Linked DNA regions of Homo sapiens: regions 1 and 3 are each linked to region 2. The links come from fine-mapping of genetic effects on gene expression. A gene starts in region 2. Each other region holds a variant in brackets. All regions are shown on one strand. Distances are between the middles of the regions.

Region 1 (5,231 bases), 25 kb after region 2:
TTTATGTTCAACAACAATACTCTGCTTTAAAACATCAATTCTGAAAGCAATATTCTAATTTCACTTAGAATATTGAAATAAGAATACATTGATGACATTTGTTCTTTATTTATATTCCAATTTTTAAATGGAAGAGTGAGAATAACATCAAGACCCTATTCTTTAATAATAAGGAAAATCAAACTTTGTCCCCAAGTGATATGTGCATTTGCATCAACTCTTCTTAATTTAACCTTAAAGTTATTTAAGCAGAAGTGACTGAATTTTTGAAGCAAACTAAATTCAATTGAATATTTCTGCTTATTCATTAATTATATTGAGCATATAAATCACTTTATTCGTATTTTCCACACTCCCATGGAAAAAGATTCAGGAATTATTTATTTATTTATTTGAGACAGAGTTTTGCTCTTATTGCCCAGGCTGGAGGTCAATGGCACGATCTTGGCTCACCACAACCTCCGCTTCCTGGGTTCAAGCGATTCTCCTGCCTCAGCCTCCCACGTAGCTGGGATTACAGGCATGCGCCACCACGCCTGGCTAATTTTGTATTTGTAGTAGAGACAGGGTCTCACCTTGTTGGCCAGGCTGGTCTTGGACTCCCGACCTTAGGTGATCCGCCCACCTCTGCCTCCCAAAGTGCTGGGATTACAGGTGTGAGCCACTGGGCCAGGCCTTATTTATTTTTATTTTTATTTATTTATTTTTTTTGTGTGGTGGAGTCTCACTCTGTCACACCCAGGCTGGAGTCCAGTGGCATGATCTCGGATCACTGCAACCTCTGCCTCCTGGGTTCAAGTGATTCTCCTGCCTCAGCCTCCCACGTAGCTGGGACTACAGGCACGAACCACCACACCTGGCTAATTTTTTTGTATTTTTAGTAGAGACGGGATTTCGCCATGTTTGCCAGGCTGGTCTCAAACTCCTGACCTCAGGTGATCCACCTGCCTCGGCCTCCCAAAGTGCTGGAATTGCAGGCATGAGCCACCTCACCTGGCTGATTATTACTTTCAGTATCACCCCCACCAAGATAGCTCTAAAAAGAATAAGCAAAGGTTATGGAATATTGATGAAATAAAGAGTTGCCATTTTTACGAGCTCAGAGAAAATATATTTTGGCTCTATGCAGTTTCTTCTCTCAGTTTTATAATTACTTGTCCTCTTAACACATTGCTCATCTTTCTCCCAACTCCACCCACCCTCAGACAGTGTCTTGCTCTGTCACCCAGGCTGGAGTGTAGTGGCATGATTACAGCTTACTGCAGCCTCAACCTCCAGGGCTCATGTAATCCTCCTGCCTCAGCCTCCCAAGTAGCTGGGACTACAGACACACACCATCATGCCAGACTAATTTTTGTATTTTTTGTAGAGAAGGGGTTTCACTATGTTGCCCAGGCTGGTCTCAAACTCCTGAGTTTAATTGATCCACCTGTCTCAGCCTCTCAGAGTGCTGAGATTACAAGCATGAGCCACTCACTGCTCCTGGCATCATAGTTTTAAAAGGTATAATTTTCTGCTTACTGTTTTTTCTTTAGGATAATCCAAAGCCAAATGTTGCTCATCTTTATACTAGTTAGAAGAAGGTTTTACAATATTGGTTCTCATTTGTTATGTATAGCTAATATTTATTGAGCTAATTTTACTATGTGCCAGACACTGTGGAAGAGCTTTATGTGCATTAGCCCATTTAATTCTCACAGCAACCCTATAAGATACATACAATTGTATGCCCTTTTTACCAAGAAGAAAACTGAGACAGAGGGGCTAAATGCCCCCATCAAAATTACAGAACTAGTAAAAGATGGAGATGGAATTGAAACCTTGGCAGTCTGACCAAATCCTGTATTTTTTTTTTTTTTTTACAGACGAAGTCTCACTCTGTGCCAGGCTGTAGTGCAGTGGCAAGATCTCGGCTCACTGCAACCTCCGCCTCCCGGGTTCAAGCAATTCTCCTGCCTCAACCTTCCAAGTAGCTGGGACTACAGGCATCCACCACCATGCCAGGCTAATTTTTTTTGTATTCTTAGTAGAGATAGGGTTTCACCATGCTGGCCAGGCTAGTCTCGAACTCCTGACCTCAAATGATCCACCCACCTTAGCCTCCCAAAGTGCTGTGATTACAGGTGTGAGCCACCACTCCTGGCCAAATCCTATACTCCTAAGGATTGTACAATGGGGCAAGTTTTTCATACAGTTGTCTGCAGATATTTTTAAAGGCTGACTAATAAATCCTACATCTTTGCGGCTCAATACTACTAAGAGAAGCTTTGCATGGTTTCAGTGTTTTCAAATGAGGTGGCCAAGCACTTTTGCTCCGGATGGTAAACTGAAACAAAGAAGCGACTTCATATCTGAGTGAGGTTGGTTTTCCTGGCTAGGCATA[T/AT]ATTCCTAAAGCCCATGAAAGATTATGTAGGAAGAATTCTTATCAATGATTCAAACATTTTAAATGCTATTTTTATAATTTGTATTGATTCTGTAATACAGGATCTTAAATTCAGATAATGACCATTATTTTTTGGAATTCCTTACCCTTCTGAAGAACAACTTTAGGTTTAAAGACCCTTAAGGTCATAGCAGAAAACATTTTATTAGTTCAATGTCTTTCAGCTACTTGGTGCTAACGGAAAAACTGCTAGAAATTCTCATTGCTGTTTTGTTTAATATACAGAATTTATATTCTGTATATTAGATTCTGTATATACAGATTACAATCCCAGCACTTTGGGAGGCTGAGGCGGGTGGATCACATGAGGTCAGGAGTTTAAGACAAGCCTGGCCAATATTGTAAAACCCTGTCTCTACTAAAAATACAAAAATTAGCTGGGCAGGGTGGTGGGTGCCTGTAATCCCAGCTACTTGGGAGGCTGAGGGAGGAGAATTGCTTGAATTCAGGAGGTGGAGGTTGCAGCGAGCCAAGATCACACCATTGCACTCCAGCCTGGGTGACAAGAATGAAACTCCATCTCAAAAAAATTTAAAAATAAAAAGAGAGAGAGAGAGAACTTATGTGACTGGAAAGTTATACAAATGAAGTACACAGACAATTTGTTATGGAGCCTAGACAAGTTGTTAAGAACATAAGCTCTAGAGTCAGAATTCCAGCCTTCTACTTACTTTTTGAAGGATTTTTAAATAAGCTACTTACCCCCTTGTTTTTTCATCTGTTAACTAGAAGTGTTCTAGTTTATGGTAATTATTTTGCTGTTCAAGTTAGACAACATCTAGTTTCTTATAAACACTATATGTAGTATTATTTATTTTCACCAACCCTATTATTTTTCTCCCACAACATAGAATTTGTCTTAGAAGTGGGGAAAATAATCACGTTAAAGTGGAAGTAATTTGTCTATGTTAGACATTCTGTTAATTGACCAAATGGAGTGTTCCTTTTACCAGTGCAATATCCTTTTGTGGCAAATGCTGTATATATATATAATTGAGGAAAGGGGAAAAGTGAAGAGGTCTCCAAGTAACTAATAGCAGTATTTACCTTTTAAGCACAAAATCTAGATAAGGTGGTCATTAATCCTAAGAAGCAAAACAGAGTCAAATGGTATATGACTTTGTAATGCAGCACTTTGCCATACATGAGTAAAACTAAAAAATAAAGACAAATGTGTTAATGGTTCAACCAAAGTTAAACCTGGAAGCTCCTATCAGGGTATCTTATTTAGGTGAGACGGGAGGGTTGCTTGAGTCTAGGAGTTCAAGATCAACCTAGGCAACACAGCAAGACCCCATCTCTAGAAAAAATATGGTAATCTTTTTTAAATAGAGCAAATTAGAAAATTCACAAAGCTAAGATGACTAGTAAATATATTATGTGCCAAAACACATATATAGATTTTGCAATGATATTTATAGGATTGAATGTGAAAATAAAAGTATGTTATTGCCTCTCTGAGGTTTTGTGTCCTCCTTGCTTTGTGTTATGCCTGTGTCTGCAACTTTTCACAATCATTAATTACATTTAATGCTTCTAGCTCCTAAAATAGTCATGAAAATAGAACTACAAACCTTTAGACTAGGAATTATTCTAGAAACTCATTCAGATCCTTCTGTAGTTTATAAGCATGATGACTGAGTATTCACCCGCATGTGTGAGACGTGCTGCCCTTAAACTTTGTTATGGTGTCACACACTGCTAGCCTGAAATGGAAGAAAAATAAATAAATAAAAGCAAAAAGCTAATTTTTAAAAAGTGGCTGTCAATTACTTTTATCATCTATAAGCCTTCCTTTTTTCTTCTTTTTGAGATGGGATATTGCTCTGTTGCCTAGGCTGGGGTGCAGTGCCACAATCATAGCACACTGTAGCCTCAAATTCCTGGGTTCAAGGGATCCTCTGCCTCAACACACCTGGCTAATTTTTTTATTAGCTGGTGTCTCACTGTGTTGACCCAGGCTGGTGTCAAACTCCTGGCCTCAAGGGATCCTCCTGCCTCAACCTCCCAAAATGTTGGGATTAAAGGCATGAACCACCATACCTGGTCCAGGATGTTAACTTTGGAGAATAGTTTATTTATGGAATATAGGTCCTCTCTCCTAACTATGCTGAATTGTTCCTTGACTTTCTAGGTTTTTTTGTTTTTGTTTTTTAAAGATGGAATCTCCCTCTGTCATTCAGTTTGGAGTACAGTGGTGAAATCATAGCTCACAGCAACCTCAAACTCCCAGGCTCAAGTGATCCTCCCACCTCAGCCTCCTGAGTAGCTAGGACTACAGGCATGCACCACCATGCCTGGCTAATTTTTTTTTATTTTTTGTGGAGTTGGGGGGTCTGCCTATGTTGGCCAGGCTGGTCTTGAACACCTGGCCCTGAAAGATCCTCCCACCTCAGCTTCCCAAAGAACTGGGATTATGATGTCAGCCACCACACTCAGCAGACTTTCTACTATTATTGTTGTGTTTAGCTTTGTGTTGCTTAAATTGTCAAGAACTAATATTAAGAATGAAGTTAATGGTATTAATGCACAAATATACTGGTCTCTGCCAAGTCAAAAATGTAAGACTATAGTATCCTAACTGCTGAGTTACTTCTTGATAACCTAATGCATTAGTTTGCTAGAGCTGCCAATAACAAGTATCACCAATTGTGTGGCTTAGAAATTTATTGTCTCAGTTTTGGACGCCACAGATCCAAGATCAAGGTGTTGGCAGAAATGATTTTTCTGTGGGCAGAGAGGGAAAATCTGCTGCATATCTCTTTCCGGCTTCTGGTGGTTTTTTCTT
Region 2 (5,231 bases):
TTGAGCCAATATTAACCTTTTCCTTCATAATCACATCAGTTCTGGCCAACATCCTACCACTGGAAAAATGATTGTACGAGGTCTTATGTTGGTCTCCAATTGTTTTCCATCTATGTTTTACCTTGTTAAACAACTGTAAGCTTCTCAAAAGAGGTTAACTATTTTTTTATTTAGCACTTATTACACAATATAATGCTGCACAAGAATACAGAAAATTTCATTTAAGAAGACTAGTGTTCATATATTTGATTTCTAGTCCTCTTTCTGAAGTGTTGTTTCTGCACTTAGGATAGCCCCATGAGTCCAGGTGTTGACAAACAGAAAGAATCAAGTTTTGGAAAACCTAAACAGAAACATCATCACATTCAAAAACTAAAACTGAGAAATTAGATACTGATCTGAAAATTGCTTCCCTTCTCTAATAACCATAGCTACCACTAACTCGCCTCTCCTCTCCCCATCCCAACACACTCAACTAACCGAAAAAAATGTACGGATAATTCATGCACAACATGCAAGAATTCTTTGCCCAAATTTTCAAGCTAACTACATTCTTTGCCCATATTTTCCTACTTGAGTATAAGAAGGAAAAATATAGGATGGAAGCTAGTCTTTTGAAGTCTACTACTTGCCAGGTACATTGCTAGCAATTTTACACACGTCATAGCATTTATTATCCATATTTTGCCAATGAGACAATTGAGGCTGAGTTTTAAAAGATGACCTAAGGCCAAAGTCTTTGGCTCCCCGCTCCACAACTACCCTCAGCTGGAGTTTGTTCCACAGTTCAGTCGCTCATTGAGAAAACATTTATTGAGGGTGTATTACAAGCTAGTCACCCCTCTAGGCATTGGAGGTCACTCATTGAGAAAACATTTATTGAGGGTGTATTACAAGCTAGTCACCACTCCAGGCATTAGAGTTTTGAAAGTATGCAAGACAGAACAAGCCCTGCTACTCTCATAGAACTTACACGCTAGAGATGAAAGAAAACAACCAAACAGGATAAGTTCAGAGTTATAATAGTTTGCCAACATGAGTTATGCACAATAATCATCAAATCTTTTAAAATATCTACAATGAGATTAAATAGTTACAAAAAAAACTAAAGGGGGTGGTAACACTCACTAACAATTGGTAACACTGTGGCCCTTTTGTCAATTCCTGAACCAAGCCATTGCATCTTTGAATGAATCACAAGGGAGAAAGAAGGAAGCAGAGCTCTAATGCTGTTTAGAATTTCTTTATAAAATAAAGTGACTCTATAAGCTATGAGAATGGACAGTTGCAATGAATCCATTGTTGGTTCTCAAACCCAAAACCCCATATTTACCCATTTATTCATTAAAATATTGCTGTATTATTTCACGAGTTGATTTGTAAAAGTCAAGGGAGTGTTGTAATTTGACATAACGCCCCTGTGAGAAACAGAGGGGGGTTTCAACATCCACATCACAAGGTTCCCCAGACTGCACACGGTCTCCATTGGGCAATGGCATCCAGATGTCATGTGGTAGCCAGCAAGAACTGTAGGACTGGGACTAGAGTGGTCAGTAGCTACGAAGAAGTGCCTGGGCCCAGTGTGACAGCTGCCAGCACCGTCCACACGCCAAAAAGAAACTTCACATCTCTTTAAACTTGGAACACATGCAAAATACTAACAGTTTTGTTTTAGCAATAAAGACTCCCTGTCACTTACTAACTTCCTTCCCTCACCTATTTATACAAGTATAAGTTGACTAGCTGCTATTTCTATAGCTGCCTCCTATGATATTTATAATGTGTTGTGTGTGATTTGGGTTGCCCATGTCACTAACACTTTGCAAGAATTTGTGTTTGTAAATTACTCTGGAACTCTTCTGGGAGTGAATATTCCACTGCACAAGGTGGAAGCCAGACTAGAGACCATCTGCTAAGAGCAGCACTTCATTCACCCAGCTACACCTTCCTGCCAAAGCACTCTTTGCAAATCTATTTTTGCTGGTAGAAGTTACTACATAGGGAGTGGAGGCTGTTTTAAGTTATCAGTGTGCACCTTCCATTTCCTCCTAGGACGGTCACACGCCAGCAGCTGAGTTTCTCAAAGAAGCCTCAGCCCTCCTCCAGACTCGTTCTCACTCTTGCTTCGGAAGGGAGCAACAATCCTTATCAGACTAGCCGCATCTACAAGCTAAAAGTTTGCATGAACTTTCAATGGGGTACCAACCCTCGCCCCAAAAGTCCTGCCACTTTACTATTTTACAAATGCCGCCTCCAAAACATAAACAACGAAACCCTAGAGAAGAGCGAATCCATCTTCTGCTGGTGGGAAGAAATTCTAAATCTTTCCCGTTTCCCGCCACCACCTACCGCCAAGACTGGAGTCCCAGAACACTCGCCCGGGTCAGAAAGGGACCACTCCCCCCCTAGAATACTAGAGGCGGGGGAAGGGGTCTCCCAGGAAGCACACACCTGAGATAGATCCTCACGCGCGAGGGGCCAGCGGGCAGGAGCACCCAGTTCCTCCAGCCAGGGTGGAGTCGGCCTCCCCCCAGAATCAGAGCCTCGGCCCGGGTGCTCCCAGCGAGGCGCGCGGGGCTGTCACTCGAGGCGGGCTGGGCGGGTGTAACTCGAGCGCCGGGCGGGCCGCGCCCCCGCCTTCCCTCTTCCCGACTTCCTCCTCCCGCTCCCGCGCCTGCTCCCTCCCGGAGGCCTGACCAGGGCGGCGAGGCCGCCACCTCCTGCCCGGATACCTCGGGCCCAGGCTCCTCCGGCCCAGCGGGGAAACGCGGAAGTGGGGGCGGGAACCGGGGCCGGGGTTGGCGGGGGTGTGGGAGGGAAAAGCCAACAGCGGGCGGCGAGCGAGGTGGTCTCCGTGGCCCAATGAACGTGACTAGACGGGGACGCGGGTCCTGCCGCCGGGTGGGGTCGCGCAGCGCCACACGCAAGGGCCCTCGCCCCTGGCTGCAGTTCCTGCTTTGTGCCTCGGCGATGCCGGACTCCAGACCTCCGCCCCGCCTTGCCAGCGGGCTGGCGGACTGGAAAGCCTGAGCTAGGCCAGGCTGGGGAAGACGGTGGCGGTGTCCGATTTCCTGTGCCCTCGCCCATGCGGGCCGCCCTGGCCATCTGCCTGCGGGAGAGGAGACACTCGTCCGCCGGCACGCTGGCGGGGCTGGCTTACCTGACGACTTCTCGTTGTCCGCCCTGGGATCTGGCTTCTCCTACTCTGTACCTCCCGGCCGGCAGGCTTCCCTAGGCCTACAGACGTGTCCAGGAGGCGGGCGACCCTGCGACCCCGCCGTCAGAGCCCAGAACCCTCGCCCGGCTCCCCCGGCGGGCTCTGGAGGCGCGCCAGGCCTCCTGGCTCCCCGCCTGAATGTCAGCGCAGGGACCCGCAGGGAAGACCAAGCCCAAGCTCCAGGGGGTGGAATGCTGAGCACAGGTTCCCCAGACCCAGCCTCATACAGGTGGGGGGAGGCGGAGAGCCCCGGCAGCTGAACAGCAGGCTTCCCACTTGCAACCCCCCGCCACCCAAAAAAAAAAAACGACCCTGCCCACTGAGCATGCCCAGCTTACTTGTTGGAACTCCTAGGGCTAGACAAGCCCAAGGGGACCTAAGGAAGGCAAAGTTGGGGCTCAAATGGACCCCACTTCTTTAACAGCTTTGCTCCGAAGACCTCTGGGTGCTGTACTAATAACCTTTCTATCGTGGTATTGGAAAATATCCAGGAGATGGACGGAAATGCCTTTCCAAAAGAAGGAAGAAAATTAGTGTGAACCAAAAAGCAGTGGTATTTTTTTAAATAAAGTATTAAGTCACTCATTTAATGTCCTTAAATACCGCAGAATTCCTGTAGTTGACCCAGAGGAATGCATATATTTATTAAATCCCAAACTCAGTAACTTCAGGGAACCATCCATAGTCCACAGAGGAGCAATGATTCTCACCCTTGGACACATTAAAATTGGGGGGAGGGGGCAGGGAGGGGTGGAATGCCAGATTTCCATCCCCAAGTCCAATGAGTCAGTCTGGACGTGGGATCTGCAAGTCCTTGTATTTTAAAACTGGCTCTAAAAGTGTAGTCACTGGAGCCCGCAGCATCAGCATCACCTGAGAACTTGACAGAAACTGTACTCCAGTGACCTGATTCATAGACTCTGGGGCTGGGGCTGAGCTACCCAGATTTAACAAGCCCTTTGGGTAGTTCTGATGCACATTAAAGTTTGAGAACCACGGTTTAAAAGCTCCCCCAGTTGAATCATGAGCAACCAGAAAAAGGAAATTGTAGTTGAGAAAAGAAAAATAGTTCAGAGCATTTGAGCAATGTGAGGTATGCAAAATTTATCAGGCCCAGAGAGACCTTGAATATGGGACATAAGTTGCACCCCCCACACTCATGCTCAGAGGCGATTGTTTAAAGGCATTTTGTTCATGACTGACTACCCAACCATATCTTCATGTTCCTGGAATTTGTGATACGAAGAACAATCTATAGACAATTAATAGTTTGTTTTTTTATGTAAATTATTGGTAAACAATTTAGAAACTGCCTCTTCTTTTCCTTTAAAAACTTCCTTGTGGCCGGGCAGGCGCAGTGGGTCACGCCTGTAATCTCAGCACTTTGGGAGGCTGAGGTGGGCAGATCACGAGGTCAAGAGTTCAAGACCAGCCTAACCAACATGGTGAAACCCTATCTCTACTAAAAATACAAAAATTAGCCGGGCATGGTGGCAAACACCTGTAATCCCAGCTACTCAGGAAGCTGAGGCAGGAGAATCACTTGAACCTGGGAGGCAGAGGTTACAGTGAGCTGAGATGGCACCACTGAACTCCACCCTGGGCAACAGAGTGAGACTCCATCTCAAAAAATAAATAAATAAAAACTTGTGACTGGGCAACATCATGAGACTGGTTATATTAAGTATGCCTCAGTTCTTTTTTCTTTAGTTTGACAAATCAAACCAATATTTTTATCATTTTTTTCAAACCCTCATCATTTATCTAGAAATGCAACATGTTACCCAGAAAAGGAATAATCTGGTTGAGTTGGGTGCCAGTCCTGGATTTCCTTCTCACTGATTATCCCAGATCAGTTCAGTGCTTGGGAAATGGGACCATCAGTTACTCACTTTTGTACTCTAGTGCCTAGCATAGTGCCTGAATATAACTGATGTTTAAATGTTTCTTGATTTGAAATGAATGCTTAGGTGAGCGATCTGGTCCAATCCATACTATGTCAGCTGATTATTTT
Region 3 (5,231 bases), 26 kb before region 2:
ACCAGCCTGGCCAACATGGTGAAGCCCCATCTCTACTAAAACTACAAAAATTAGCCAGGCGTTGTGATGGGTGCCTGTAGTCCCAGCTACTCAGGAGGCTGAGGCAGGAGAATCACTTGAACCCAGGAGGTGGAGGCTTTAGTGAGCCAAGATCATGCCACTGCACACCAGCCTGGGCAACAAAGCAAGACTCCATCTCAAAAAAAAAAAGAAAAGAAAATGTACCAATTCTTTCAAAAGTTCCTGTTGCAACTGCATTATATGCCGTTAGAAATATATTTGGGGAAGTATCTGTTGAAGATGGTTTAAGAAATCCTGAGCTTATTTTTTTAAATTATGACTGAATTTTTAATAATAATTAGTTATAGCACAATAACTTCAGTTATTGTTCAGTTCATTGTAAAAGAAAGTTCTCAATTTGAATACAGCTCTATTATAAACATCACTACACATATATTTAATGTATAAGTGGTGACTGAGAGTTATAAGAGATCAAGAAGTGCGCTGTGGTGGGAAGACCAGTCACTCTGTTTCCTTAACAGAGAGAAGATCCCTAGGAAAAAAGCTGACTAGTTTTTCCATCCTGCAGTCTTTTTTCTCCTGTAACCTGTTGAAATTTACATTTAAAATTTACTCCTCTGTACATCTAATAATCCACAAGTATAAATGGAACTACAACAAAGAGCCAAAGTACAGATACAATGCATATATGAAAAAGGAAACCTGAGACGTACTGTAGTGAAAATAATCATGTATTAGAATATTTAGCTTACTGATTACACTTCCTAAAAATGTCTGACTCACAAGGAAATAAGAATCAGATGAGAGAAACAGATTGAAGTAATTCATACTGCTAACAAAATTCCCATTTAAAGTAAGTGAAAACAATGTATTTCCTAAATGCTCCATCCCCACTCCAAAAAAAGTGAAGAAAATATACTACATTTTCCTTCACCTATGCAAAAATAATGAGGAAAGCTGTATTTCTATCTCAGTCATTTTGGCTAAAATGATCTTGGTCATAAGATCTTACTCTCCTCAGTTGAATAACGCATCCTTTCCAAACTAAAGAAAAAGATATTTCTTTTCTTCTTTAAAAGGGCTAGCACAAACCCTCATGAAAAGCATTCAAGTACTATAGTCTAGTTATTCTGCATAAGATGTTTGGTATCAACACTACAGAGCTAATAGCACAGAGGTGACAGGTCTAAAATTTAAATAGCATAAATAGAGAAAATAAAGGGTTCGACTCAATATTCCTTTTGAAGCTGTCATTGATCTTTTTTTCAAAAAAGAACTCTATAGTCTTTCCCAAAAATATATAATTCTCTATGTTGTATTCCCAAAACTCTAAATTAAAAAAGAAAATCATCAGGGGGTATTCTGGAAGGAAAGACACGCTTGTAATTCTGTCTCTTCCACTAACTTGCTCTGCGATTTCAGGCAAATCACTTGAACTTGCTGATCCTCACTCCAACTATATATGAGCTAGCCTTCAAAATGTCCAAAGCTATTTTAACTTTAAAAGTTTATTACTTTATGGTTTTTCTTCATTCAATAGATGAAGAAGGGGAAACAACCCTCATGCATTAAATGTGGCATTATCTTAATGTCCTATTTATTTAGCACTGTTAGATAATTAAAACTTGCATTCATGGTTTTATTTAATAATTATTTACTGATCATCCATCATGTGTCAGGCACTGAGCAAACAAAGAACACACACAAAAAAATCCCTGCATTCCAAGAGTTTACATCTGAGTGGAGTATACAGTTAAAAAAAAAATTCTGTATTCTTTTGGATTAAAATACTATATTTCAAGAATGTAAGTCACACTTTGGCTTCTTAAATAATATTAACCATGAATTCAATTATTGACGACTTACAGCCATCCATATGTACATGCTATGATATGGTGATGGCCTCAGGAATAATAGGAGTGACAACACTATTAATGCCTTTACTTAGTGGTCTCAGGTCCCAGTCTGTTCCTGTATGAATTCTTCCTCTCTCTGCTTCCTACAATTTTCCTGCTTCTTCCAAACTATCAGGCTGATGATAATCTTCCCTGTTTATCTTTGAGCTCACTTCTTTTTTAATACTTTAAGTTCTAGGATATATGTACACAACATGCAGGTTTGTTACATAAGTATACATGTGCCATGTTGGTGTGCTGCACCCATTAACTCGTCATTGTTACCACTGTGGTTAGAAAAATGAGAGCCAAGTTAGTTTAACTGTTTCAAATACAAGTAAATAGCTCTAAGTAAGGCTAAAGGAGCTACTTACTAGAATTTTAACACTTGGTTTTCAATGTTCTGGCTCTAACTCTTCAGGGATCTTTTTACCCCCTTCTTTTATGTGTTTCAGGTTAGTGGAGCTTACTAGAAAACATCTGGATTTTGCTGTACACACTGTGAATGAAACAAACTACCCCAGCCTCTTACATAGAGTTAAGAATGTCAGGCTAGGTGCGGTGGCTCATGCCTGTAATCCCAGCACTTTGGGAAGCCAAGGCAGGCAGATCACCTGAGGGTGGAAGTTTGAGACCAGCCCGACCAATATGGAGAAACCCCGTCTCTACTAAAAATACAAAAAAAAAAAAAAAAAAA[AT/T]GTATCCGGGTGTGGTGTTGCATGCCTGGAATCCCAGCTACTTGGGAGGCTGAGGCAGGAGAATTGCTTGAACCCGGGAGGCGGAGGTTGCAGTGAGCCGAGATCACGCCATTGGACTCCAGCCTGGGCAACAAGAGCAAAACTCCATCTCAAAAAAGAAAAAAGAAAAAGAAAAAAAGAATGTCAAACCAGGTACATGCACAGAGTCCAGGCCTTAGAAAAAGAAAATTCTTATTTCAATTCTACCTCATCTGAATAGATCCACATTATCTTGAAAAAACATGGCAACACTCTCTGCTTCTGTGCTAGAAACAATTAGTATATTTTTCTGTGCTCTCCTGCATTTAAAGAAATATTTGCAGATAAATGGACCAAAAAAATCCATCTGCTGCTTCTAAAAAACTCGAAAATTCCTTGAGAACTGGCTTATTGAAAACATACCAATAGCAAAGGAAAGATTAAAATTGTAATTTCTTAGAATATAACCAAAGCAAGAGTTCCATCAAATACTCAGGAAAGTATCCGTGAAGGACCTACCCAAGTGAAGAAGACAGGAGGAGGAGCATTGGTTCAGGTAACATACATTCAACTGGGATTGACTGAATACCTGGCAGATCCCCAGCACTGTTCCAGGGGCTGGGAATTCCTCTACTCTCATGGATTGGAAAAGACAAAAATAAACATGTAAACAAACATAAAAATTAAGTATTTTGAAAGTGAGAATTACTAGGAGAAAATAAAGATGAAATAATAGGTTAGAGGATAACTGGGGTAGGCTGGACATGATGGCTCATGCCTGTAATCCCAGCACTTGGGGAGGCCAAGGTGGGAGGATCGCTTGAGGTCAGGAGTTTGAGACTAGCCTGGGTAACATAGTGAGACCCTGTGCCTACAAAAAATAGAAAAAATGAGCTGGGCATGGTAACATGCACCTATAGTCCCAGCCACTCAGGAGGCTGAGGCAGGAGGATTGCTTGAGCACAGGAGTTGGAGCCTACAGTGAGCCACGATCACACCAACCTGGGTGACAAAGTGAGACCCTGTCTCAAAAACAAACAAACAAAAAAGTCAGTGGAGAATTTTAATCAGTACAATGATACGATGAAACTTATATTTCAGAAAGAAAGGAAGAAATGCCCTAGCTGCAGTATAGAGGATGCCTTTTAGGGTAATAAGAGTAAAAGTAGAGCCTGGAAGGTCAAGGCTACAGCGAGCTGAGATCCCACCACTGCACTCCACCCTGGGCAACAGAGTGAGATCCTGTCTCAAAAAAAAAAAAAAAAAAAAAAAAAGAGATAGAGAGAGATAATGTGATAATTTAGTGCTTGCCTGCAGGAACACAACTACTCCTATAGGCACAGGCACAGCCAGGGACCTGCTAGTGATAGGATGCTATCCTTGGCATATTCAAATGACACCAATGACCCCCAGGAGAGAGAGAGGGTTGCTTTTTCATTAGGATACCATTAGCCATGTTCATAATGAGTAGATGCAAGTATAGAAAAAAGGACACAATGGGAGAGGGGGAAAGAGTTAACAAATTATATGAGAAAACAGGCAAAAATACCAACTGCAATCTACAAGATTCTATAATAGGGAAACAAATACTTTAGGGATAAACTTGAATGTAAATATGTACTGAACTTACATACTTGAAAGACTGTTCATCTCACTCAGTCTAACAGGCTAACAACAATGAACAGACAGTGTCATCTAAGAGAGCCTCTTAAATGCCAACAGAAGTCTTTTTTATATTTCTATTTCCCCTTGGGCTGGGGTTGTTTCCAGGTGACTTTTCTCACCCCACAACTCATTATAATTTGCACTGATTTTGGACCCATATTGGAAAAGAACCCTAGGTCACATCTCTAAAGGCTGACGCACCCAGAACATTTCCCACCAACTACAGGCCAGGAAGTTAAGAGCTGTGTGAAGCTTATTGACCCAGCTGAGTATAAATTTCCAACAGGCAAGAGAGACTGCATATGATTAATTACAGTTATTTATATTTATGGGTTTGAATCTTGAGGATGCCTGGCCTATCCCCATTTTATTTCATAATTTTCCCCCTATTGGAGACTGAAGAGCAAAAGTCAATTGCCTGAAGTGTTGGCATCACACTGGAAACTAAAGGGCCATGCATTTCAATTCCAGCTCAAGGAACACTCTGACTGAGCAGATGCAATTCACCAGACCCCAGTGGGCTAGGATCGTACTGTTCTCAGTCAAATCACATAGCTGATGGAATTCAGCAGAGTACATTAGCAATTTATACTCAACAGCCTCTCTTCAACCATAAATTTTGAAATAATTTTGAGATAATGTCTGAGATAAAATTGGGATAATATTAAGTAAAACTTAAACTTAATCCAAAAAATTCAGGCCATAGTTTGAGCCTCTGTTCCTACCATGAAGCAGTCAGGAGGCAAGTGACTAAGTGGCATTTCTAATAGGATTCCTGTCAAAACGCCAGGTTCAGTATCAGTCCAATGACCTTCAGGCCTGACCTCACCTAGTGCACTTGAGCTTACTCCTTCAGTCATTCGTCTGGCAGCTGCCAGTTTTTCAGATTATACTATGTGGCAGCCAAGTGCTCTGCAGAGATTACAGAATGGGC

Alleles and levels. Alleles are on the strand shown, and positions count from the first base shown. SD is a standard deviation of normalised expression in the study named. Not every link is listed here.
With allele T in place of AT in region 3, the expression in monocytes after Pam3CSK4 of the gene that starts at base 2,586 in region 2 is higher (moderate effect, 0.48 SD a copy in Quach 2016).

The links. PIP is the estimated chance that this variant, and not a neighbour inherited with it, causes the effect. A credible set is the group of variants that fine-mapping cannot tell apart.
Region 1: its variant is the best candidate, but not a certain one, in a credible set for the expression of GPD2 in whole blood (INTERVAL, PIP 0.57).
Region 3: its variant is the best candidate, but not a certain one, in a credible set for the expression of GPD2 in monocytes after Pam3CSK4 (Quach 2016, PIP 0.72).

Annotation. Positions count from the first base shown.
Region 1 is chr2:156,409,068-156,414,298 of GRCh38, reverse strand. It overlaps LOC124906173 (small nucleolar RNA U13), which reads left to right and starts at 4,053; the gene lies at 4,053-4,155. It also overlaps a transcript of GPD2 not described here. The variant T/AT (reference allele first, on the strand shown) is at 2,384.
Region 2 is chr2:156,433,734-156,438,964 of GRCh38, reverse strand. GPD2 (glycerol-3-phosphate dehydrogenase 2) reads right to left here and starts at 2,586. Exons shown (of 17, transcript NM_000408.5): 1 at 2,452-2,586. RefSeq lists silencers at 2,465-2,874, 3,315-3,484 and an enhancer at 3,025-3,074.
Region 3 is chr2:156,459,837-156,465,067 of GRCh38, reverse strand. All of the region lies in intron 1 of GPD2 (glycerol-3-phosphate dehydrogenase 2), which reads right to left. Among named protein-coding and RNA genes, the nearest start is that of GPD2, 26 kb to the right of the region's middle. The variant AT/T (reference allele first, on the strand shown) is at 2,614.